7 linked regions of the Homo sapiens genome follow. The protein of the gene in region 3 purifies or fractionates together with the protein of the main gene of each other region. This does not show direct contact. Each region holds a gene or a part of one and is shown on either strand. Other genes may lie near its edges.

The links.
Region 1: the proteins of DPH6 (region 3) and SLC60A2 purify together in Homo sapiens (affinity purification with mass spectrometry; 3 studies listed by BioGRID and IntAct, with this or other methods). This does not show direct contact.
Region 2: the proteins of DPH6 (region 3) and SRPRB purify together in Homo sapiens (co-immunoprecipitation; one large-scale study listed by IntAct). This does not show direct contact.
Region 4: the proteins of DPH6 (region 3) and DHX8 purify together in Homo sapiens (affinity purification with mass spectrometry; one large-scale study listed by BioGRID and IntAct). This does not show direct contact.
Region 5: the proteins of DPH6 (region 3) and DAAM1 purify together in Homo sapiens (co-immunoprecipitation; one large-scale study listed by IntAct). This does not show direct contact.
Region 6: the proteins of DPH6 (region 3) and TMEM63B purify together in Homo sapiens (co-immunoprecipitation; one large-scale study listed by IntAct). This does not show direct contact.
Region 7: the proteins of DPH6 (region 3) and HS2ST1 purify together in Homo sapiens (co-immunoprecipitation; one large-scale study listed by IntAct). This does not show direct contact.

The regions. Positions count from the first base shown.
Region 1 is NC_000006.12:111,265,839-111,269,338, reverse strand, and holds part of SLC60A2 (sodium-dependent glucose transporter 1), read right to left. Parts: intron 3,464-3,500; coding exon 2,220-3,463; 3' UTR 1-2,219. UniProt on the Homo sapiens protein: May function as a sodium-dependent glucose transporter. Potential channels for urea in the inner medulla of kidney.
Region 2 is NC_000003.12:133,815,815-133,818,903, reverse strand, and holds part of SRPRB (signal recognition particle receptor subunit beta), read right to left. Parts: intron 2,027-3,089; coding exon 1,972-2,026; intron 1-1,971. UniProt on the Homo sapiens protein: Component of the signal recognition particle (SRP) complex receptor (SR). Ensures, in conjunction with the SRP complex, the correct targeting of the nascent secretory proteins to the endoplasmic reticulum membrane system.
Region 3 is NC_000015.10:35,539,666-35,543,165, reverse strand, and holds part of DPH6 (diphthine--ammonia ligase), read left to right. Parts: intron 1-658; coding exon 659-753; intron 754-3,500. UniProt on the Homo sapiens protein: Amidase that may catalyze the last step of diphthamide biosynthesis using ammonium and ATP. Diphthamide biosynthesis consists in the conversion of an L-histidine residue in the translation elongation factor (EEF2) to diphthamide.
Region 4 is NC_000017.11:43,490,475-43,493,974, forward strand, and holds part of DHX8 (ATP-dependent RNA helicase DHX8), read left to right. Parts: intron 1-690; coding exon 691-776; intron 777-1,708; coding exon 1,709-1,818; exon of another isoform or gene 1,819-1,900; intron 1,901-2,187; exon of another isoform or gene 2,188-2,206; coding exon 2,207-2,566; intron 2,567-2,970; coding exon 2,971-3,115; intron 3,116-3,208; coding exon 3,209-3,412; intron 3,413-3,500.
Region 5 is NC_000014.9:59,195,167-59,198,666, reverse strand, and holds part of DAAM1 (disheveled-associated activator of morphogenesis 1), read right to left. Parts: intron 1-3,500. UniProt on the Homo sapiens protein: Binds to disheveled (Dvl) and Rho, and mediates Wnt-induced Dvl-Rho complex formation. May play a role as a scaffolding protein to recruit Rho-GDP and Rho-GEF, thereby enhancing Rho-GTP formation. Can direct nucleation and elongation of new actin filaments.
Region 6 is NC_000006.12:44,148,054-44,151,553, reverse strand, and holds part of TMEM63B (mechanosensitive cation channel TMEM63B), read right to left. Parts: intron 3,303-3,500; coding exon 3,169-3,302; intron 3,042-3,168; coding exon 2,904-3,041; intron 2,763-2,903; coding exon 2,609-2,762; intron 1,696-2,608; coding exon 1,589-1,695; intron 1,331-1,588; coding exon 1,244-1,330; intron 991-1,243; coding exon 925-990; intron 1-924. UniProt on the Homo sapiens protein: Mechanosensitive cation channel with low conductance and high activation threshold. Osmosensitive cation channel preferentially activated by hypotonic stress.
Region 7 is NC_000001.11:86,913,448-86,917,434, reverse strand, and holds the start of HS2ST1 (heparan sulfate 2-O-sulfotransferase 1), read right to left. Parts: upstream 2,801-3,987; 5' UTR 2,399-2,800; coding exon 2,275-2,398; intron 1-2,274. UniProt on the Homo sapiens protein: Catalyzes the transfer of a sulfo group from 3'-phospho-5'-adenylyl sulfate (PAPS) to the 2-OH position of iduronic acid (IdoA) or glucuronic acid (GlcA) within the heparan sulfate (HS) chain and participates in HS biosynthesis.

The sequences.
Region 1 (3,500 bases), on a different chromosome or scaffold from region 3:
AATCCCAGCTACTCAGGAGGCCGAGGCAGAAGAATCGCTTGAACCAGGGAGGCAGAGGTTGCAGTGAGCTGAGATCACGTCATTGCACTCCAGCCTGAGTGACAGAGTGAGACACCATCCCCCACCCCTAATAAATAAATAAAAATAAAAAGAGCAAGAAGGTTTTTACCATTAACTTCTCCACCGCCATCTCCAAAGCTGTTAGGTTATTACATGAACCAAGACTGTGGCAGGCATATAAGGTGAATGGGCGGGCAGTGGTCAAGAAAGACACTGTATTTTACTTGAGACAAAACAATGGCAAATTTATAGAAATTAAGTAAGAGAAAGCAAGCCTACTCCAATCAGGTAGAAAGGAGATGTTATTCAGCAAAAAATTGGAGGAAGTAAACAAAATTTCATCAATTCTTGTCATTTTTCAAAGGATCACCTGCACCAATTCTGCCACATATATATGAAGTACCCTTTCTGATCCTTGACTCCTAGGCTACCCAGTCACCTTCTAACTGGTTTCCCAGGTATTTCAGACTCAGGAAAGAGAAACCCTGGATCGGTGACACAAGTATTCCAATCACTGGAAAAGACTATGCCTCACTGTAAATTACACTTGCAGCGTGACCTACGGTAACTACGATATGATTACCACACAGACCTGGTGAAGAGCTAATCTCGAGCAAGGCTCAGACCCAGCCTCTGTTACTGAGGTAGGCAAAGGACCTCGAAAGACCCCATCTACAGCCCTACTACTAATCTAATAACACTGAAACAGTTCTTAAAATTAGAACATAGTGTCTCCAAATTCCACTTGAACATAGAATATTAGCATATAAAAATAACTTATTTTTAAAATGTCTGTAAAGATACTATCATAATTGAATGAATTACTGTATTTCACTGAATCTAAGCCACTGATTGTAAAACACATTATTTTATATATACATATGGGAAAAAACTGTCCATTAAACTTTGTCACAATGTTAAACGATCACTGATTGTAAGACACATTCTGATTTCAGATATGTTAACAGTATGGGGGTAAAAAGTGCAACTTAGAATCAATGAAATGCAGTACTAAAAAATATATTCTTCAGGTAATTATTCAAATAAGGTATTAAACATTAAGTACATTAAATTGACATGTAATCATTTATCATTAGCACATTCTTAAAGCTATTTATCATTTTGGTTTCACTTCTCATTTGAAATGAAGAACATGCTGTCACTTGTACTAATTTCTAGCAGACATTTTGCACAAACTTTAAAACTTACAGATTCCCAATTTGGAAATCATCTCATTTTCATTTCTAGAATCACAGATCAGGAGGCGAGATAAACAAGGCCTACGTTAAGTGACAGAGTGCAGGGCTAGAAGAAGTCAAGGCTTGAAGCCCGACCCCTTGGGCCCTGTTCTGTGTTCTCTTCATTGAAATTAGAAATCAAATGAGTCATTACATTCTTTGATCCAACCCTACAGATAAGGTAAAGCAATTAATAAAAATACCTCTCCATTTCTTTTTTGAGACGGAGTCTAGATGTCGCCCAGGCTGGAGTACGGTGTGGCATGATCTCGGCTCACTGCAAGCTCCACCTCCCGGGTTCACGCCATTCTCCTGCCTCAGCCTCCCAAGTAGCTGGGACTACAGGTGCCTGCCACCACGCCTGGCTAATTTTTTGTATTTTTAGTAGAGACAGGGTTTCACTGTGTTAGCCAGGATGGTCTCGATCTCCTGACCTCGTGATCTGCCCGTCTCGGCCTCCCAAAGTGCTGGGATTACAGGCTTTAGCCACTGCACCCGGCCCATTTCTCTTTTATGAAACTATTCTCCTCAACTTTCCTGGAAAAATATTGATACCTGATAATTTGTTCAACCAATCAATTCAACTCCTACATGGTCTCATTCTGAGAATACCCCCCTTCTCAAAAACAATGCCTTCTTTGGGTGCTCTGAGGGGTGGAGACCATAAAATATTTCCTAATCAGTCACATGTCAAATGATAGCGTTATAACAAGATCCTATTGTACGTGTATGAGACCATTTGGTTATTTATGGAAGACTCTGGGAATTACAGAACATTTCAAAAATTTTTAGCATTTGCTATAATATGGACCTAAAAATTTTAATCCCCAAAGCATGGTGAAATTCTGCTAATGCTCTGCTCTGAATGGCGTCCTTAGAAGTGGCAGTTATTCAAAGATGTCAGTGAGTAATCCATCTTCTCTAAACGTTAGTCCCTTTTGTCCTGGTTTCTGGCAAGTGCTTCACATGGGCACTGCCAGTATTAAAAGGAGAAGACTCAAACACCAGTGCATTTGATGGGTATTGATTATAGACTTCAGCTGTGGGCTCCGTCAGACTACTTCTAGATGTCTCTATTATAGAATGCCTCATTGTATCATTCGTTTCAATCATTTCAAAATCCATTTCATTCCATTTTTCTGCATCCTCCTCTTCATTCTCTTCCTCATATTCATTTAGCCCGGAGCTAGAGAGCAGAGCTTTCTGGTCCTCACTCTTTCTGTCTTCTTTTCGCTGGCGATCAAGAGGTGAAGTGGCTAATTTATATAGCACAGGAAATAAAATACCAGTAGCTATTGATGCTCCCAAAGAGGTATACAGAACTACAGGCAAATCAGGGTATTTTCCTTGAAGAATTCCAATGACTGCAGGAATAGCCATTTCTCCCAGGGAAGCACCAATTACAAAAAATGCTGCAGATTTCCCATGGATGGTCGTGTACTGCTCAATCCAAGAAACACCACTCGGAAATGTGGTTGCCATTGAAGCCCCATACACTGAAGTTGCTATCCAGAGACAAATTGGGTTCTTGTCAAAAAGCACCAGAAATAAAGATGAAGTCAGGCTGCCAATGTTGCTCAACACAATCATGGTTCCAGGCTGTAAACAGGTAGCAAAAAAGATTGCCAGGCCCCTGCAGGCTGCAAATGTCCCCCAGAAGATGGAGTTCAACCCAGCAGCTTCACTTTCTTTCATGCCAGCATGGGTGGTTGCAAATGAGAAAACATAAGAGCCATATGTTACCTCAGCTCCAACATAAAAAAAGAAGAACAGAAAAAGGAGACAAAGAAGGGCGTTGTGATATTTTGCTCTTCGAAATGTCTCAGCAGATGCTCTTGCTTTTTCTTGCTTTGAGCTATTCTTTAAAAACAGACAAAAAAAAATGACAGAAACTAAGAACATGTAAGTACCGATAACAGCATAAGCCCACAGTAAATTCTTATCATTAGGTACTCCAAACAGAGCTTCTGAGTCAGCATCAGATGATTGGTTGAGTGCAGGATGGAAGTCAGACTCTGTGTGGTTTTCAGCAGACGCTGTCGGACCCAAAGCCAGTTTAGCTAGCAGTGGAGCCAAAAAGGCACCCAAGGCAAAAGAGAAGTGTAAGGCCTGCATATGTGGGGCTCCTTTGTCCCCCCAAATAGCCAAGATAAGGACGTTACCACCTGTCGATGAAAGATGGGAAAAATTATTTAAGTTAAA
Region 2 (3,089 bases), on a different chromosome or scaffold from region 3:
CATTTCTTGTTCTGTAAAGTTGCTTCAAAATTAGTGAAGAATCCACAGGCAAAACTAAGCAATACCTTGTTTAGGAAGGAACACACACACACACACACACACACACACACACACACACTGTAAAAGTATTTTTAAAAAACAATACAAAACTGGATATTGCTGACCTCTTGAGGGAAAAGCTTTTGGGGAGAAACAGGGGCCTTCTAGGCATGGTGGTGAGTACATAGGTATTCATTTTAATATTTTTTAAGCTTAATGCATGTGACATATATACTATTATAAGTAAGATATTTTACAATAAAAATTTTTTAAGGAAAAAAGTAAAACATGTATTCAGCTTTTGCCACAAGGCCATGTAAATATAATATACCGTGTTATTGAGAGACTATGAAATGCCTCTAAGCTAACAGGGCCTAATTCTCATAAATCTGAGATTAAAATTAGTCAGATTCCGAATTTTAACTGATGTTAACCTTTACAATTTGTCAACATTTTGTTTCACTGCCTTTTAAGAAAGCATTGCCTTTCAATGCTTTTAAAAAAGGATTGGCTTCTGTATTGTTTTTCTCTAAGTCTATAGAGTGAAAAGCAAACAGCCTATGGAAAACATGTGTTTTAACCACGGGAGACTTGGACTGTACTGTTAAAAATAACCCAAGACTGATTCACAAATAACATTATGACAGTTTTGGCTTCCCCAAAACAATTCCCAACAATTTCAAGAGAATTTTTAGAAAAACCCAACCATCCAATTGTTCCAATGTCCTTATTAACCTAATGGCAGCAACAGATACAATCCAAGAGAGTGAGCATCAAGAGCACAGGAGGACAGGGTGATAAACTCGCAGCTCCAGACGGGAAAGGAACCACTGAAAATGGCATAGGCAGGGCTGGCAAAATTGTTCTGCAAAGAGCCAGAAATTAAATATTTTGTCGCATATTTTTCTTCTGTTTTTTACCTGCCCTTTAAAAATGTCGATTTACTCTTGGCTTGCAGGCCCAGGCAGGAGTTTGCCAATGCCCGAAGCTGACTAGATTCTACCAGACTCTAAGCTCCTGAGTACAGGAACACATTTCCTCCTACAGCTGCTCCCAACTGCAGTCTTGGCATCCACTAGATGCACTACAGGTGCTTCTTAAATGAATAAGGGAGTCAGTAAGTCATAGTGGGGAGAAAAGTTTCTAAAAGTTGAATTTATACAGTTTTTCCTCATCAGATCCTTTTCAAGGCCTTACACAAAAGCAATAAGAAAACATAACTTGCTTTACTATAAATGTTGATCATTTCTTCTACACCAGCTTTTGGCTAGCTCTTACAAATTGGCATAACGCAGAAGACATGCTAGATGCCTTAAAATTCAAAAGCTTATAGCTCAATTTACAAACCTTGAAACACTCAAAGCAGGATATATAATATTGCCAAGTATTTTAACAATCTAAGAAGCTATAATGTAGTATCAAAGACTTGTAGTCTTCCTCAGTGTTCTGTTCTTATTCTGTCAACAATAATTTCCAAAGTGGCTTTTAAATGTTTTAATTTCTTTTTTCCTGATTCTCAGTTTTTATTTTTTATTATTTACATGCATCCTTAAATACCACTTCACAGGCATTATTGAGTGGTGAACAAACACTTCCACTCACTGAAATAACACCGTTCTCAAGTTGGCATGTAAACTTTTTTAGCTTCTAAAACCTTTCAACTATAAATGATTTAGTAACAATGGTAAAATAAATTAAGTTTATGGTTTCAAAAAAATCTTCTTTCCATGAAATTTTAAAATATCTATAAGCACCCTAGTAAGTTTTTGTGATTCCATTATTTTGTAAATTATTTAACAAATATTTATCACACTAATCTTCAGTCTATAATTGTGATAATCACATAAAACCAAACAAAAGAAACATGAATATGCTGCTTACAGTCTAAGTGTTAAGATATATAATTAACCAACAGGCCTCTTTCACACTTACAGTTCTTTCTCCAGCTGCTGTTGAATTAACTTTGCTGATTTTGCCATTGCAATATCTGTAAAGAAATAAAGACACTGTTGTAGTTTAAACGAGAATGAGTTTTTTCCCCAAGACTTCTTACACAGAAGGAAAATTCCTATTTAAACCAGTAAGTTTTTCTCTTTTTTTAAAAAAAGACCTTTTATCACTAGTTCCTTCTCTATCAAAGTAAGCTTTATACTTGCACTAGGGGCTTTCCCAAGATAATGCTTATAAACATATTATGCTGGTGACCCTAAAACTGACTTTAGCTTTCCCTAAAGTTCTCCACACCTTATAGACCTTTCAATTCAAAACATATAAGTTTACTCAGTTTAACAGAAAGAAAACCTACCAGTGCTGTGATTATGAGAAGTGCCTTCACATGCCAAAAGACAGTGCCCTATCTGTCATTTTAAAGTAAACTTAGCATGTTTCCAATTGATCCTAAGACGGTATGTTTAAAGCATTAAGTGTACTAAAGGTAAGAAACAAGCTCTGGTTTGGCACAAAGCCCATGGCAAATAAACAATAACTCCCTTCCTTATATTCAATCAGGGAAATAAAGAGGTCAGGTAATGACGCTAATTGCATTCCCAATAAGGCATTATCAATATTATCTGGTCACTTCTGAGAAATGCCTTGAACTCTTCATAGAATCAGAATTTCAGATCTGGAAGAGACCTGAAGAGATCCACTAGTCTGTCTTATTGTACAGGTAACGGAACTGAAGCCCAGTTTTATTGGGGATTACTAGAAAAGTTTTCAATGGTTATCAGGTTAAAAGAAAACAACTTCAGCAAACTTCCCTTGATAAAATGTGCTGTACAGTAAACTTGTTTGAAAGCAGAAACTCCACCCTGCAAAACTGTGCATCTGATATCACATATTGTCAATCTGATGAACTTAACTTGGTAAAGTAAAATAATTTATAATCAGAAAAAACACTGTATCAAAGAAAAATCAGTTAGCAGTCACTTGGTTATCATTCCTTGGTCTTCTGGTTAGAAGACTGGTGAAAAGGTAGGAGTAGAAATAAATTTTAAGATTAAAAATCCTTCAATTTATAGTTCTTTACAGCAATTGTATCTCATCCTCAA
Region 3 (3,500 bases):
TTTTATCTCTGCAGAATTTGAACCCACCAAGTGTGTCAAACTTTGTCATTAGCTAGGTACTCAAATCTTTAATTTGATCCTTTAATTGCTGATGGTAGCCATTTGTTAGATTTCTTATGGTGGAGCAGAATTTGTTTTTTTTTTTACTTTCTCATAGAGAATAGTTTTTTTTTTCCCAATAATTTCTATGAAATTATTTTATATATATATATATATATATTCCTTAAGTGGAATAATATATATTATATATATTCCTTAAGTGGAATAATATATATTATTATATATATTCCTTAGGTAGAATATATATATTTCATATATAATTATATAATAAATGTTTAGCTGGGATGTAAATTGAAATCATTTTCTATTTGCAAATCACTTCAAATATATTTGCTATCACAAAGCAAAAAGTTACCATATTTTGTTTAGAATATTCTTATATATATATAGTTTCTTAAGCTCCTGTGAGTAGCAGCCCTAGACATTCAGATTCGGTTGCTCAGTTTGTTTATGATTTAGAAATTAATGGGTTTTTTTTGCATTGTAATATATTCTGAAGAGTCAAGTAAATGATATGTTCTGTTTTGATATCTAGTGATTTTATGTTGAATAATGGTCAGTAGCATGATATTTGTCCCTCTCTTGATTTATTGTTTAGTGGTGGGAAGGACAGCTGCTATAATATGATGCAGTGCATTGCTGCTGGGCATCAGATCGTTGCTTTAGCAAATCTAAGACCAGCTGAAAACCAAGGTAAGTACATGCCTTTATTGGGAAGTTGCCTAAATGAATGAAATTCCAACTTCATAATTACATTGTACAGGTATACCGTACAAAGATGAAAAAAAAAGAACCAATAAATATTAAGCACCCATTAGATGCTAGTTTCCACCTAGAACTTAGCATTAAGTGTTTTCACTTACTTTTTAATTCTCATAACCAACTTCTATAGAGATGCACTATTAATCTTAATAGACAGGGATCCTGAAGCTTAGAGTTTGTCTGAAGTAAACTAGCACAAACTTGTAGAGTTAAGACTTGAACCTTCTTACTTCAAAGTACACTACCATTTTACCCCACCACATTCCCAAGTACTGTAGGCAGCATAGAGGTAGATAAGATACAGTCTCAGGCCTCAAGGAGCTTGAGAAGTAAGACACATATTGATAAATGATATATTAATTTTATTATTAAAAGGATACAGTTTACCTATTTTAGATGTAAGCCAGAAATGTGAGACTTGAGAGAAGCATAAAGCAATGCATTCCCACTTTTCATTTGTCTGTAGTAACAAGGGCATCCACATATAATTCACAGACCTCATATTGACTACTTTTTTCATTCTTTTCTCCAATGAAATATCCCCAATTATAGCTTTTGAAAAAAGAAATATATTCACCAATTTGCTTTTTAATGCTATTGTGTTATACCTATGAAACTACAGATATTAACTGCTAAAATGTAAGAGGGAAAAAAGATTAGCACTTTTGTGACTTTTGTATTACTGCTTCTCACAGGACTTTTCTAGTAAGATCTTTTTATTCTCTCTTTTACTTCTTTCCAGGCTCCATGTTTTTGCACTGTTATTTTAAGATTAATTAAATGAGTGGTGTATGTGAGAACATCAGTCGTAGTTCCTGTCATGAAGTAGGCATTCTGTAAATTTAGCTGAATTGGAATCTAGCTAAATACTTGTTTTATATCTTTAAATGGATTGATTATAAGCTTCTTGAGAAGAGAGATCATATCTTCTATCTTCCTTTTATTGCTCCTCATCACTTGGGCCGGCTCTATGCCTCTGGTAGGAGTTCACGCAAGGTTGATTGGTGGACAGGTGTATAATGAACTAATTTGGATTAGCCCTGGAATAGTGAGCAGTTATTTCAGTCAGATATTTGAATCTTCTTTCCTTCTGTGATTAAGATGTAAGTAATGCTGGATGTCGTGTGGAAAGACAGAGTTTAGAAATATTTTATAGGAAGAAATGGAAAGGTCCCACAGAGAGTCAGAGGTAAATGCACATGTTTGGATTTTGTGCTGCAATTGATGAGTAACAGATGGTTTTTTAGAAGTGATGTTTTTTGAAAGAGTTCCAACTTTAAGAAAGAGAAAATTCTTTGAGGATGAATAGGAACTGCACTCTAACTTCTGTATTATAAAAGAAGAAGCAGAATCTCCTGTTAGGTTTACCAAAAGAGAGAAACTCCCTTATCCCTTGTGGCCAGGGGGAGGCAACTGGGACTTTCAAGCTATCTTGTGAAGTTAAAAAGCAGATGTTTATATAGTATATAATACATACATGGTATATTATAATTTCATCACTGGAGTTTCTATCTTGTTTTCAGCTTTCACATGAATTATTTTACTTACCTAGTACAGAACCATTAATATATAATCTTCCTTGTGTTCATGGTTCACCAGCAGGGTGGTAAAATGACAAGCAAAGTATATTTTTAAATTATACCTCTCAGTAGAATAGAGACACTTATTTAGAATATTGTTAGTGAGAAAAAATTTGATAGTAAATAGAATTAGAATATTCTGAAGTAAAAAGCCTGGAAAAGGCAGTCGAAACAATAGTAATTGTTGTAGAAGAAAACAGATGGCTGTGGGTTGGTAGATGGAGATGGTTTAGCTCATCTTGATGAAAATCAGCAGGACATTGGGAATTATTGAACAATTCACTGAATGACTTATTTTCCTATGAGTGTTATGAAAGAAACCTTAGTGAGGAATGACTGGTAGAGATGACTCCAATGTCCAGCAAAGTTACGGGTTTTCAATGGGTGGTGTGAAAAGGAATTTATTCCCATCAATGAGGATAATGCGAACTTGTCATAAAATTCACAAAACCATCTCTTTAGATTTGTAGTAGGAACTTTTGTGGCATGTTAATTGAGTTGCTTCAGGCAACAGGGGAGCCTTTGGTTTTATTTGATCTCACACTATTGTTGCTCTGTAGCTTCCATTAATCAAAGTTACAATGTGGTTAGGACTAAATAGAGCCTTAAAGAAAATTATCTTCTAGGTTTTTGAAGCCAGTGAGATGTTTTACTTATTATGCTAACATCAGAATGTTTCTTGCCAAGAAGCCCAAATTTCTTTGAGTAAATTGGTTTGATTGTATCAATATCCTTTAAAATGAATGTATTTAAAGATCCAGTCTAATTTTGAGACGAGAGAAGGCCGAAAGGTTTTTAGGTAACTTTGGCTATGTTCTCTACTTCCTACTGGGACCAGGAGTGGAAACATTTATAGTAACAATGTGAGTAATATTCTGAAGGAAGCCAATCTAACAATGTGTGAGTTCAGAAACCTGTCAGCCAAAATGGGGTAGCAGATTTTGATGATTTTGATTGTTGAAGGGGCCCTTGCACTATCACTTTTCATTCCTTTTGATAGGAAGTTTTCACATTTAATGGAAAGCCTGGACCTGTTTGGCTTATATTCATACATACACACATAGGTATATGTCAAAATAACTACTTTGTAATTTTTTT
Region 4 (3,500 bases), on a different chromosome or scaffold from region 3:
TTCCAGCTGAGCTTAGCTTCTAGAATGGTGTAGGTTTTGAACATCCTGTAAATTGCATTTGTTTTCCTCTCAGCAGTTGCTGAGCAAGTAAATGTTCCAGTAAGATTTTTCAAATGGGCTGGGCCTAGCGGCTCACTGCTGGAATCCCAGCACTTTGGGAGGCCAAGGTGGGAGTATCACTTGAGCCCAGGAGTTTTAGACCAGCCTGGGCAACATAGAGAGACCTCATCTCTACAAAAAAATAAAAAAATTAGCCAGGCATGATGGCGTGCCTCCGTAGTTCCAGCTACTTGGGAGGCTAAGGAAGGAGTGTTGCTTGAGTCCAAAAGGGTGAAGCTGCAGTGAGCCATAGTTGCACCAATGTACTTTAGCCTGAGTGACAGAGGTTTTTTTCCCCGTTTCAAGGGGAAAAAAAATTTCAAACGACTTAAGACAAAATAAAAAAGATAAGACATAACCCAATGAGTATTGCTACACTCCTCTTTCTGCTACATTTCGAGATAGTTTGTGATCAATGTATTTAGAAAATTAAATTACATTTATAGTAACAGGTATGATTAATATATAGCAAAATGCCATGTTCTGTTTCAGTTTGATACAAATCTATTGTTGAAGTTATTTTGTTAATCATTAATAATATTAAATATATATCTCTTTTTTTAACCCCTTCATGCTCTTTAATGAAACAAGATCCAGTTGTTAAACCTAAAACAGAAAAAGAAAAGCTGAAGGAACTCTTCCCAGTCCTTTGCCAACCGGACAACCCTTCTGTTCGGGTACTGATACCATTTTAAGAGTGTCTACTATAAATATATATTCTCAACCCCTTTTCTTTGTCTCATAGTAATTTTATTAATTTTAAGTTTGCCTTTGTTGTAACTTATTTTTAAGAATGAAAGTGTTTGATCACTCCCTGAGCATGTACTATGTATTGAATTTGTTAAGGGGTTCTGAGAATGATATTCAAGGGAAATGAGATTGGGAATTTGGGGAAGTAGTGATTAGGAATATGAAATAAGGTTCTGGAACAGATGCCTAAGGTGTGAAATTAGATTTTTTTTTTTTGCTCTGTTACTTGTTAAAGGTCTAATTTTTAAAGCATTTTGATTTTTAAATTTCATTTTAATAAATATTTATTGAGTACTTACTGTATGCCAAACACTGTTCTAAGTACCTGGATAACAGCAGTGAACAGAACAGACAAGAGTTTCAGCCTTTGGAGATTATATCCTAATTTTGGGGTAGGGAGCAGGAAATAAACATGTAAACATTCTGGTGGGGAGGAGATAGGCAATAAACAAACAAATAGGTATGTAACATAGCAGATAGCAATAAGGGCTATTTAAAAAAATAAAGCTGGAGTGGGGGTAGGGAGGAAGAGTGCAGAGGGAGAGTTGCTTTTTAAAATTTTTAACACCTGTTTTCTATTAATATAATCATCACTTGCATTCTTTCATGGCAGGGATGATTAATATCTAACTGCCTTTCATAGAATTCTATTAAGGACAGAGGGGATTTGTCAAATGTAGCAGTAATTCTCAAGAGCCTTTTTTCCATTTCTTCTGCATCTATCCTGAATCAAGTTTGAAATCTCTGCCCCTCTTCTATTTCCCTCACATAGTGATTAGTGATTTATAGATGTACCTGAGGTACATACAGATTCTTGAGTAGTTTTTTTTCCTAACTTTGCCGGCCTCTACCTCTGCAGACCATGTTGGATGAAGATGATGTGAAAGTTGCTGTGGATGTCCTGAAAGAACTGGAAGCTTTAATGCCCAGCGCAGCAGGCCAGGAGAAGCAAAGAGATGCTGAACACCGGTTTGTCCTTAGTGTCCTGTCCTTTGGAAGTTTAGGGTACTGTGACAGTTGAATATTATGGACCAGCCAAGCAAAATTTTGGGCAAGTTTACAGAATCTGGACTGGTCATATATCATATTGTTGGATCTGTTTTCATTGCTTCCTGCTAAGTGTATGTAGCAAATGCTAGGTTGTTCAGAATATAGAAGTCAGGGTTGAAAGAGGCTGAATATGTTTGTGGCTCAATTCTTTATTGGCTTATAGGGATGTCGTAGTTATTGAAACTCTAATTCAGTTCAAAACCTAGTGGGTACCTACCATGTGCATGGCACTGTACTGGGTGCTTGGGGATGCGAAGATGAAATCGGATTGGTTTCTTTTTTAAACAGGTGCTTATTGATTTGTTAGGGACAGGACAAAGAAGAAGAAGCGGAGTCGAAGCCGAGATCGAAACCGAGATCGAGACAGAGATAGGGAACGAAACCGAGATAGAGACCACAAGCGGAGACACCGATCCCGCTCTCGATCACGTTCCAGGACCCGGGAGAGGAATAAAGTGAAGTCTAGATATCGGTCCAGGAGCAGGAGTCAGAGTCCCCCCAAAGACCGGAAGGACCGGGACAAATATGGAGAGCGGAATCTGGATAGATGGCGGGATAAGCATGTGGACCGCCCTCCTCCAGAAGAGCCCACCATTGGTGACATTTATAATGGCAAAGTTACCAGCATCATGCAGTTTGGTTGCTTTGTGCAGCTGGAAGGACTAAGGTAATGACTGGTGCTCTTTTGTTCACACCAGTGATGGGCAGAATTTCTTTTATCACTGAGGATGTTCACATTCTAAAAAGTTACTTTGATTAATGACACTTTAGTCAAATCAGCCATACATGGTTCTTAGAAATTGACTCTTTTGAAATGTTACAGAGCCATTTATTCCTTTCTCTGTCTTCAGGAGATCTGTCCTTTGCTTGTTGGGACAGATAGAATTTGCTTCCCCACCCCATGTCTCCCCATGAGGAGAGTGTTAATACTATTTTATTGTTTGACCACCTTCATGGTACTTTTCTCTTGAGTTTAAGACCATTTTCTTTTGTTAGTTCCAGTAAGGGTAGAAATTGGTTGGGGGAAAAATATTTTTTGGCATGTTCCAGATGTGTCTGGCTCTCCCTCAGGAAGCGGTGGGAAGGCCTGGTGCACATCTCTGAGCTCCGGCGGGAGGGTCGTGTGGCCAATGTAGCTGATGTCGTGAGCAAAGGCCAGAGGGTCAAAGTCAAAGTGCTGTCCTTCACTGGGACCAAGACCAGCCTGAGCATGAAGGTAGGTGAGATGGTCAGCCTGTTCTTACATGTGATGGCCAAGGGAATGGAAGAGGACAGCAAGTGAGACAGCTCCCTTGTTTTTGTGCCTTAGGATGTGGATCAAGAGACTGGAGAAGATCTAAACCCAAATAGACGGCGAAATCTTGTCGGGGAGACCAATGAGGAGACCTCAATGCGGAATCCTGATAGACCCACTCACTTGTCCCTTGTCAGTGCTCCTGAAGTAGAGGACGACTCACTGGAACGCAAGCGCCTCACCCGAATCTCTGACCCAGAGAAGTGGGAGATCAAACAGGTTGGGGCCTTTAGTTTTCATGACCAGATAGTCATTCAGCATGTAGCATGGTGCTTAGGGGTGTGCCCTGGAGCACGATGGCCTGGGA
Region 5 (3,500 bases), on a different chromosome or scaffold from region 3:
AAAGTCACCCACATGTTTGCCCCACATCACTGTTGTAAAATCTCTTTATCCCCTAACAGAAGCATTAAAAGCAGGTTAAGTATTTCCACCCCTCCTTCCGGATCAGGCTGTAGAGAAGAAAGGCAAATCAGCAAATGGGGCCAGGCACGGTGGCTCATGCCTGTAATCCTAGCACTTTGGGAAGCCGAGGCAGGCGGATCATGAGGTCAGGAGTTCAGGCGGATCACAAGGTCAGGAGTTTGAGACCAGCCTGACCAATATGTTGAAACCCTGTCTCTACTAAAAATAGAAAAATTAGCTGGGCATGGTGGCGGGTACCTGTAATCCCAGCTACTTGGGAGGCTGAGGCAGGAGAATTGTTTGAACACAGGAGGCGGAGGTTGCAGTGAGCCAAGATTGCACCACTGTACTCCAGCCTGGGCAACAGTGCAAGACTACGTCTCAAAAAAAAAAAAAAAAGAAAGAAAAGAAAAGAAAAGAAAGGCAAATCAGCAAATGGAAACACAAGAAGGAAGCCCCAATGTGAATGTCCCCGAGTGTACGCATGATTTCTGTTGGAGGAATTCCTGGCCTGAAGAGACAGCATAAACAAAGGCCATCCAGAGGGAAACAAATGATAAGATAAGTGAAACCCAGCAACTCTCTCTGTCCTCCCCTCTACCTACTTCCCTCAACTTGTTCGTCAGAAAAACAATCTGAGCTTGACAGAATTACAATGTAAGCCTTCCTCTCCCAGCTGCCTCACAGCTCTCATTCTAAGCTAGAGGGTTAAGGGGGGAAGACATGCTTTTCTGTAAGGTCAGTGATGGGGCTCCCAAGATATGGAACTTGGCAGACTGGAGACAGCCATCTCACCCTGCCCACAGAGAAGCCAAAGGAGCAGAACTGTCAAACTGCAATGCAGGGAGTATAGAAAGAAAAGGTAAGGTATGGAAGAAACGTAACTTCAGACACAGCCTGAAAAGAAATTGGGTTAAATATAAAACTATATACATTTTTAAAAACATTTTAACCAGCCCTTAGCAGAAAATATCATAGGCAAGGCAGTTTCCTGCCACAGTTCCTAGAACTTCCATAGTTGGAAGTGTTACCTACTCACAGAATCTCAAGCCCTAAATGGGTCAGAGTATTTCCAGTTTAATCTCTATTCTTGATTTTTAAAAGACGAAAATATAATAGCAGGCCTGTTCATTTAACCTTCTGAGAACATGGTGCGGTCAGTCTCAGCCATTGGCTTCAATTCCAGCATTTATTTATTGCATGTCCTCCAACTTTTAGTTCACATTACCAACAGTGCTGAACAAAGTACCTCTAACGCAGAAATGACTGCCACACAAACAGGATGGGGAAACCAAACAGAAATGGTATTGTTGTTTCTTTTCCACCATCAGCCTAAATCAAATAGCAGCCACTAATAATGAGTTAACTGTAGTTGCATTTGAAAAAATAATTCCCGCGGTGGCTCACGCCTGTAATCCCAGCACTTTGGGAGGCTGAGTCGGGCGGATCACGAGGTCAGGAGATCGAGACCATCCAGGCTAACACGGTGAAACCCCGTCTCTACTAAAAATACAAAAAACTAGCCAGGCGTGGTGGCAGGCGCCTGTAGTCCCAGCTACCCGGGAGGCCGAGGCAGGAGAATGGCGGGAACCTGGAAGGCGGAGCTTGCAGTGAGCCGAGATCGCGCCACTGCACTCCAGCCTGGGCGACAGAGCGAGACTCCGTCTCAAAAAAGAAAAAAGAATTCCAAATGGGTTGCCTTGAACAGAAATGTATGACATTTTCCATATTCACAATTTCACCAACTTTCAAGAATAGAGAATGCAGCAAGTTTCTTCAGTTTAAGCTGTTTCATTTCCTTTAATTTCTTACAATTAGTTTTTTTGTGGGTTTTGTTTTTTTGTTTTGTTTTGTTTTGTTTTTTGAGACAGAATCTCGCTCTGTCACCCAGGCTGGAGTGCAGTGGCAGGATCTCAGCTCACTGCAAGCTCCGCCTCCCGGGTTCACGCCATTCTCCTGCCTCAGCCTCCGGAGTAGCTGGGACTACAGGCGCCCGCCACCACGCCCGGCTAATTTTTTGTAATTTTAGTAGAGATGGGGTTTCACCGTGTTAGCCAGAATGGTCTCGACTTCCTGACCTTGTGATATGCCCGCCTCGTCCTCCCAAAGTGCTGGGATTACAGGCGTGAGCCACCGCACCCGGCCCATTTCTTACAATTAATTTTGTAGTACATTCTGGGGATTTAGAAGGGTCCCTGGTCTAAACCTCTTGTTACAGAACTGCGGGTTCTAACTTGTGTCTAAACATTTCCCTGCTTGGTTTTACCAAATCTCTATGAAACTAATACAAATTTAAGCTTAGGCACATATGAACAATCTATCTCATCTGGTGAATAATGTTGACCACCATCCTTTACTCTTCTTCTTGGGCACAAATATCCAGAACTTTATCTAAGAGTAAGTCCAGAAGTAGCACCCAAACACACATTGATGGCATCTGTCATTCTGCCAAGAAAGGAAAAAGATCAAGGCTATTGGCTTTGGCAAACTTTCAAGAAGCTGCCCCTAGTCCTGACCTAATCTTCACAGGAGGACAACTGTCAGAAGCATACGGTTCCTTAGCAAGCTGCTGGCAGTCTTGCCTCTCACTTACAGGGTTTTCCTACCAGTTCGCTTTAAAATATGGCACCTTTTTTTGCCCTTAGTAGTGATAGCTGTGCACTGATATGTCCACAATGTACAGTCTAGTCCCCAAAAGCATGATTAATTTAAAAAAAAAAAAGATACAGAAAAAATCTGACTAGAATTACAGGTACAGTTTGTGGCTCCAAAACAAGGCAAAGCTAACCCATGCCCTTGACCTGGTTTGTATGTCACTAACAAACTGAGCTAGCCAACAAGCCAGAATATAAGAACCTATCTCAGAAAATAAAAGATGGGCATCTGTATTACCCCAACAATGCCCAAAGCTAGGATCTGGGCTATCTACTCTTGTAAGCCTAAATTCAGGAAGTCTATCAGATAGGCAACATTTTCCAATCACACTGCAGGTATTTTTTTTAGACATAAAAATGACAAAGACCAGTTTAATAGGTGACCTTAATTGTGTGCCAGCAGAAATACAGGTAGCCTTAAAACCCCAATCCTGGTGTAATTTATAGAACAGAATAAACCCAGGTTATTACTAAAGGTGAATGACATACTTAAAAAGTATAACAAGATGAGGCCAGGCGCGGTGGCTCACGCCTGTAATCCCAGCTCTTTGGGAGGCCGAGGCAGGCGGATCACGAGATCAGGAGATTGAGACCATCCTGGCTAACACGGTGAAACCCCATCTCTACTAAAAATACAAAAAATTAGCTGGGCGTGGTGGTGGACACCTGTAGTCCCAGCTACTCAGGAGGCTGAGGCAGGAGAATGGCGTGAACCTGGGAGGCGGAGCTTGCAGTGAGCTGAGATCGCACCACTGCACTCCAGCCTGGGCGACAGAGCAAGATTGT
Region 6 (3,500 bases), on a different chromosome or scaffold from region 3:
CCAATGAGACCCTCAAAGAACCCAAAGGCTGACAGCCCCAGGAACACCCAGAAGATTCCCCCACTTAGACCATAACTCGAGTTACCCCCAGAGTGTGACATGAGCCTCAGATACCTCCACAAACAAGCTTTGAGACCCTTCCCGCAACATCTCTGGGGGAGCCCAGGAACCTTTATCAGTGCCTGAGATGCCCCAAGTGTGACTCAAAGATCACCACAGATGGCCTACAGCAAAACCCCTAGAGTTTGTGCCCACAGCCATGGTGCATGACCTTCAATATATCCTCACATGATTCCCAGAGAAGATGCCCATACAGAACTCCACAGTTACATCTCTGAATAAAAGCCTGAAATTTTAGAGATGTTCCCAGAACTTGTACTGCTAAACATCCCAAAGTGTGAGTCCTTTAGCCTCCCCGCCCACAGACACCCCCAGAGTTATAAGGTCAAGAGCCTCCTACACATACCCAAAAATATGGGCTCTAGAGACCTTCAGGGATACCCCTAGTAGCCTCCAAGACACTCCCTAAGTATCACCAAGACCTCCCTAGAGATGGTTCCCCAAACCTCCCAAGTGGAACTCCAGAGACGCCCACAGTTAGTCCCAGAATATGGGCACAAGACACCCCCATAGAAACTACCAGAATGTGGAGCCCCAAGCCCCAAATATACCTTGAGGATGATCTTAGCATCCAAACAGGTTACCAGAGAGTGAACACCAACACAGACCCCAGGGACTTCTACCATGTATACACACCCAAGACACCTTGTGGGTGCCTTTGGGGTAACCCCGCCAGATCCTCTCTCTTCTGCCCCCTCCAGGAGTTGGAAGCTTTGTTGCACCCTCCCATGGGGCTGGCAATGTCTCTCAAGCATACCCACCCCTGCTGTCTGGTCTCTTTCCCTAGGGGCCCCAGTCACTCACTCAAACCGAATAGCTGCCTCAGCCAAGAATTTCTTATCAAAGAGCCAGCGGAAGAAGAGGTCCAGGCTGGAGGGAAGCAGAGGAGAGATGGGGTGGGAGCTGGAGTGGTACAGAACACCAGGGGAGGGGAAGTCCCTCCTCTGTGAGCCACTGGGGAGACTCCCAGACATGGGGTGGGTAGCTCAGGAGGCCTGGGGGTGGCCAGGCTTCCCATCTTGGGCCCCTTGCTTTGTAGGGGAGGTAGGGAGGCTGAACTGCTCTCCTCTCCCTATCCTGCTGTCCCCCTACCCTGGCTCCTGCCCCATCCTTCTCAACTCACCTGCTCAGTCCCAGCGAGGGTAGGAGCAGCACCATGAAGATGAGGAAAGTGTAGCACTTGTGCATGGTTGTCCTGTTCTCCCCAGAGCTGGAGGGAGGGGAGCAGGGAACGGTACAGGTCAAGTGAGCCCAGGCCCCAGACTTGCTCCCCCAACAAGGACAATGTCCAAGGAGTGTCCCCTGGGAAGGGTGGGCCTCCCAAGGTGAGGGTGCTGGGCACTACCCCTTCCCTACCAGCTGTGGGACTGCCCAGGGCCAGGAGCCTGAAGGGCAAAGTGCTGCCCAGAGAGGATGGGTCATTGAGGGCAGGCCACAGCGAGGTGTGGTGTGAGTGGAGGCACCTTACCGTGTCCAGTGGGCTTCAAAGAAGGCTGAGTAGTAGACGATGGTGGGAAGGAGGGCCGAGAAGCACCACAGCAGCAGGGTGGGGAAGAACTGGGTGATGATGGGGTTCTGCAGCAGGGCACAGGGGGGCGTCAGGCAGGGCAGTCTAGGGGGCCCAGGTGGCTTTGCTTATGTGCCTCCTCCCCAGCTGGGCCCTTGGCCTCACAACTCTCAGGGCTCCCATGTTGGAAGCCCAGAACATCCGGAGGGCTGGGGTGAGGGTGGGGGCCAGGGCCATATGTATAACCCCAGGGTGGATAATACTGATAGTCAGCATTTGCTGAACATCTACTATGTTCTAAGCAGTGCTGATGTACTTGCCATGTCTTAATCCTCACAATAATGCTGTTACCCCATTTGACAGATGAGTAAACTGAGGCAAAAAAAAGATTCAATAGCTTCCCTAGCTAGCAAGCCATGAGGTAGGGATTTGAATCCATGCAGTCTGGGTCTTATCTATTATGGTATTATCACTCCAAGTGATTTGCAAACTGTCCTTCTTCAAACTCTGAGGTTCTAAAGAGGTATGCTCTATGCGTGGGAGGAGAGGTGAGGGGAGGCCAGGCAGACATGCATGCCACCCTACTGTCATCGGAGCAGCCCTGCTTTTCCACACTGGGTTTCACACCGATAAAGAGATCAGAATCCAAGTCCAAAGCCACTGATCTAGTTGAACCTTTCCATTTTTTCAGTTAGACTGAGGGGTGAGGGAAGGGGACTTCTCTGAGATCAGGACTAAATGCAGGCTCTCTCTCTTCCCTGGGTGTTTCTCCAGGTGTTGCACACCTGAGGGTGGCCTCTCTCAGGGGGAAGGTGGCAGGGAGCCCAAGGGAAGTGCACACAGGGGTTTTTGGGAGCTGGTTGGTGGCACGGGGTTGGAACAAGCAGAACGGGCTGGGCTGGGCAAGTGGAAGAGGGATCAGGGCCTGGTATCTGTGTGTTGTGACCCAGCGTGGAAAGTGACAGGGGCATGAGGCCTCACGTTGAGGTACTCCACAGGCTTGGTGACGTTGAACTTGTCCATGGTGGTGATGATGATGGCTGGAGTGGTGAGGAAGAAGAGGAGGATGAAGAGGACGACATTGATGACCAGGCAGCGCAGCCACCAGATGAAGCCTCGGATGGAGAGGTGCTCCCTGGCAAGGTGGGGAACCGGTCAGTCCAGGAACCAAGGGCAGGATTGGCCCCCAGTGACACCAAGACACTCCCTCTCCTCCGCCTACCTACTGAGCCCATCCCAGGCCCTGGAAAGCCTGCCCTGACACCTGTTTGCTCACCAGTAGATGTTCTGAGGGTCAGGGGCATAGGACACGGTCCAGTTGGAGATGTGCAGGGACTCGCTGCAGGATGAGGGGCGTGGCTCCCCACGGCAGGTGCAGCCCTGGCATTTACACACGTTGAAGTCCTTCAGGATGCTAGAAAGATGGGCACTGGTTACCACAGGCCCACCTGGAGGCCACACTGCTGGCAGAAGGCCATGAGCACAGGGGTCAGGGAGCCCTGGAGGGCTGCTCAGGGCCGAGGGCCGAGTTGGGGACTCACATGGCGGTGATAGTCTCATTGTGGAAGGTGACAAAGGCCATGCCAAGAGGCTTCTCATTCACCTTCTCCTTCTCCCGCTTGTAGTCTTCCTTCAGCTTCTGCTCCAGCTTTGTGTAGTACTCAATGGCCTCCACCTTTGTGGGAGGGTTAGGGACAGGGCCTCTAGTTGGAAAGCCAGGCTGGGGCCTGCAGCATCCAGCCCACGCTGACTTGGGGCTTCCTACAAGCCAGGCACTGCTCCTCTAAGCATTTTTTTTTTTTTGGAAACAGCGTCTCGCTCTGATGCCCAGGCTGGAGTGTAGTGGTGGAATCTCAGCTCACTGGAGCCTCAA
Region 7 (3,987 bases), on a different chromosome or scaffold from region 3:
CGGTTCTCATGCCTTAGCCTCCTGAGTAGGTGGGATTACAGGCGCCCGCCACCCCGCCCGACTAATTTTTGTATTTTTAGTAGAGATAGGGTTTCACCATGTTGGCGAGGCTGGTCTCGAACTCCTGACCTCAAATGATCCGCCGGCCTCGGCCTCCCAAAGTGCTGGGATTACAGGCGTGAGCCACCGTGTCTGGTCAAAAATGGCTTTAAATGGTGTTCTTACTTTAAACACGAGTATCTACGATGAAAAGTGCCTAGTACAGAATATGGTTGTCAAAATATGGTTTCCTCTGCTAGGCATGGTAACACCCACCTGTACTCCCAGGTATACCCATCTGTAGTCCCAGGAGGATTTTGATGCATATTTACTACTTTTTATGAAATTTTCTTTCTTGTATCACAAGAAAGCACTTTATATTTTAACTGTGGCATTATACATCTTCAGATAACTTTCTTTTAAAAATCATTCAGATTGTGTCTATGGAAGCAATTTTCAAGTATATGGGGAAAGAAATGTTAGGAAAGGAGGAAAATCAAAAATTTAAGTCATTCTAACCCACTGTAACGTGTCTAAGAAATCAACTCCAGACAATTCCAAATAGTAACAAAACAAAAAATAAGTACAAATTTTAATTTTAATATAACTTTCCACTTCAAGAGGAGTCTTTTTTTCTGTAGAGCTGGATCATTAATAACGCCAGAATATGACCCTGAATGTCGCTAAATGGATCCAAAAGAAAAGAAAAACCAGACTGGATAACCTTCAATATTTAAAGTGGACATTTTTTTCCACCACACAAGATACATATTAATAAAGGAATTCGTAAATAAACTGAGTATCTCTTCAAATTTTACTCTAGAATTGAGGGCTGGAAGTAACTCTAGTTTTCCTCCAACTTTAGTTGCACTTCACTCAGATTTACTTGATGGTTTTTCTTTCAAGGCTCTTTAAAATGTCAAGGCTTTTGCAAAGCCTTGTACCAAAATAGCTACTATACATAATATTACAATTATTTTCTGGTACATTTTTCCTAAAAATTAATCATCCACTCACAGTAACATCTATTTCTTAGTCTAAATTACACTGCTGAGGGTTTTTTGTTTTTGTTTTTGCTGGCTTCTCAAAAGGTATTTAAAATGATTTTGAGGTGAGAGTATGCAAAAAACACTTCACATTACTTTTCCATATTCAAATTACATCCTCTTGAGCTGATTTTTAAGTGCCATGTACATTTTTAAATCAAAATTTATCACTGTCATTCTTTTAACTCTCGCTCTCCATGCTGAGCTCTTCCAAATGCCAAAGTGCCCTATTAATCCGAAAGTACCTATTATCTGTGCTTTTTTCTGGCCTGTCTTTCACAACTTCACACCAACTTTTTGTACTTTAGACCCCCTCATCCATTAAAGCACCTGTTAACCCTTTAAGGTATTTAACCATATGGTTAGCTTTCCGCATAATCCTACTTTTCCTTTAACAAACACAAACTTCACTACATAATTCCCCTTCAGCGTTCCCTCCTCTTCGAAATTCACATCAACACTGCCGTGAAGCAACATACATAGGCATCCCTATTCTCAAGCCCCAATTCATCAGTTTAGCGCCACTAAAGAAGAATTTAAATCTCCGGACCCTCATTTCCGTACTCCGATGAAGCTTTGCACTCGCGTTCCCGCACTACCCGGCCAGCCTCCCTCAGCTGGCAATTACAAGGTCCTTTGCTGCCCGGAGCACAAGAGTGCAACTCGCTACAGTGTTCACATGTTGCTCTCCGTCATCCCAGCATCTCCTCCCATTTCTGCGCACCTATCCCTTCATGAGCCCCCAAAAGAATTCGTATCCAGATGCCCATAGCTCAAATTAGAATACCCCTCATCTGACATTGCCAGGGCTTCCTGTACGACTTCCAAGAGAACACGCGATGCTAAGCGCTTCTGTCTCCGGAGACCAGCAACACACGCTCCCCACTGAGTTCGGTCTTCTCTCTCGCTCTCTCTCCGCGGAATGCCTACTTCGGGGCTACCCTTTGGCTAGGGAAGCCCAACCTTGCAACCTCTGCCCCGTGACCTCGCGAGCCCAGCACGCCGCTCAAGCTTAATTCAACCCATTCTTGGAGCTCGTGCTCTCGCTGCCCCTTGTTCCCGGTTCTCTTTGAAACCGCTTTCAGCCCCCGAGCCAGACCCCAGGTTAGATGAACGCCCACTTGCTCCGGCGGCAGCGCCTCCTCGGCCCCTTCCACAGCACTCAGCCCGGGGCAGTTCAGTTCCTCACCTAGCTTCGAGCGGGACTCCTCCAGTTTCTGGATCTGGTTTTCCAAGAAGAGCATCGCCACCGCGAAGGCCACCACCGCCAGCAGCTGCAACTTGGGCGGCATCATAATCCTGAGGAGCCCCATGAAACCCGCTGCTCGGGATCAAGACATACCGCGGGGGGCGGGGAGCGGGACCCCGGAGGCGAGAGAGACGCCGGGAGGAGCCCGCCGAGCCGGGAGCGAGGCAAAGAGAGAGCGACAGCGAGAGAACCACCGCAGCGACCCCCCTTCTCGCCTCTCCAGTCCCCCTCCCCCAGGCGCTATCACCAACGCCGCTGGTGTCCGCTTCTCCTCAGCCGACTAAACGGCCGCCCCCTCCAAAAGCCCGCGCAGCAAACAGCGCGAAGCGGCTGCCGGGCTCTCGCCTCCCTCTACTGCCTCAGTCCCCGACCCCCGCGCCCGCCTGCTTGCCCGCCTCCCTCTCTTCCTTCCTTCCCTCCCTCCTTTGCTCGCGGCCGCGCGCCCCTCCACCGGCGCTGCGGCTGCGCCGCCCTCATCCCCGCCCCCGCCCATCCCCCTCCGCCACCACGCGCACGCATCCGCGTACGCTGCTCGGCAACCAGAAGCCCCGCCCCTCCCCCCGTTCGGGTCCGCTTATTGGACGGAAGAGCCCCTGCGCTTCGCTCTTGGTTCGGTTTACGGTTGGTTTCCTCTGCCACAGAGCTCAATCAAGACGACATTCAATTGGGTAAACTTGGAGAAGAAGGCGGGGCTAAAACTGGCGAAGGCGTGGCTTCTTGGCTGCTTGACGAAGTGTCGTGAATAAAAGAAAGGAGACCGCAGAAGTAAAGAAGTGGGGAGTTTAGGCAAGTGCCTGATTTGGGTAATCGAAAGCACCCAGTGATTGTATTTGATGACTTTTAAGCTTTCATATGCCGTTATTTAATACCTGTCACTTCCAAATGAGAGATGTAAGGGCAACGGCCGTTAGCGTTCTGTTTTGGATCAGGCTCTGGAGTGGACGCCCCTAGCTTAGGGGTCCTTCTAGGCAGCCAGAAACCTGCGGAAAATGGTAGCGATGGCGGCTGGGCCGAGTGGGTGTCTGGTGCCGGCGTTTGGGCTACGGTTGTTGTTGGCGACTGTGCTTCAAGCGGTGAGTGTAGATCACCTTCGCAGCTGCCACAGGGAGAGTAGGAGTGATTGCAGCTGAGAAAGACGCAACATTCGGTCCTGGTTGAAAAGGGTGGGGAGGACTGCGCTTCCTTAATGACTGCTGCGGCCAGAATGCAACGTGGCTTAATTTCTCGGTTGATCCTTCTCCTTCCCCGCCTTGGGTTTCTAGCAGCAGTTTTCTCTTGATTTCAGATTGTCTTGGGTACGTAGCTTCTCTTATACGGCTCTTGCTAAAAACAATCTGTAAACCACACCAGGTGGGAGGGGGGAATAATAAAGCTTGGCAAGAAGTGGAGGTTGTTTTTAAATGGACAGAAATGCAAGAGACTCATGACGAGACTTCCAACTCTTAGAGGCAAGTCTTCAAGTCGTTGGTCCAGGCGAACAGTTTGTGTTTACCTCTCTCGCGCGCGTGCTCTCTCATTTTCACTACTTCTGTTAGTCTCTTAACTTCCGTTCTCCTCTGCTATTCATATACGGCTGGCTGCGCTTGAGTGCGATTTGTGCTTTTAAACAATGTTGTTGGAGTAAAAGGAGTTATCTATACCAAAGTATAATTC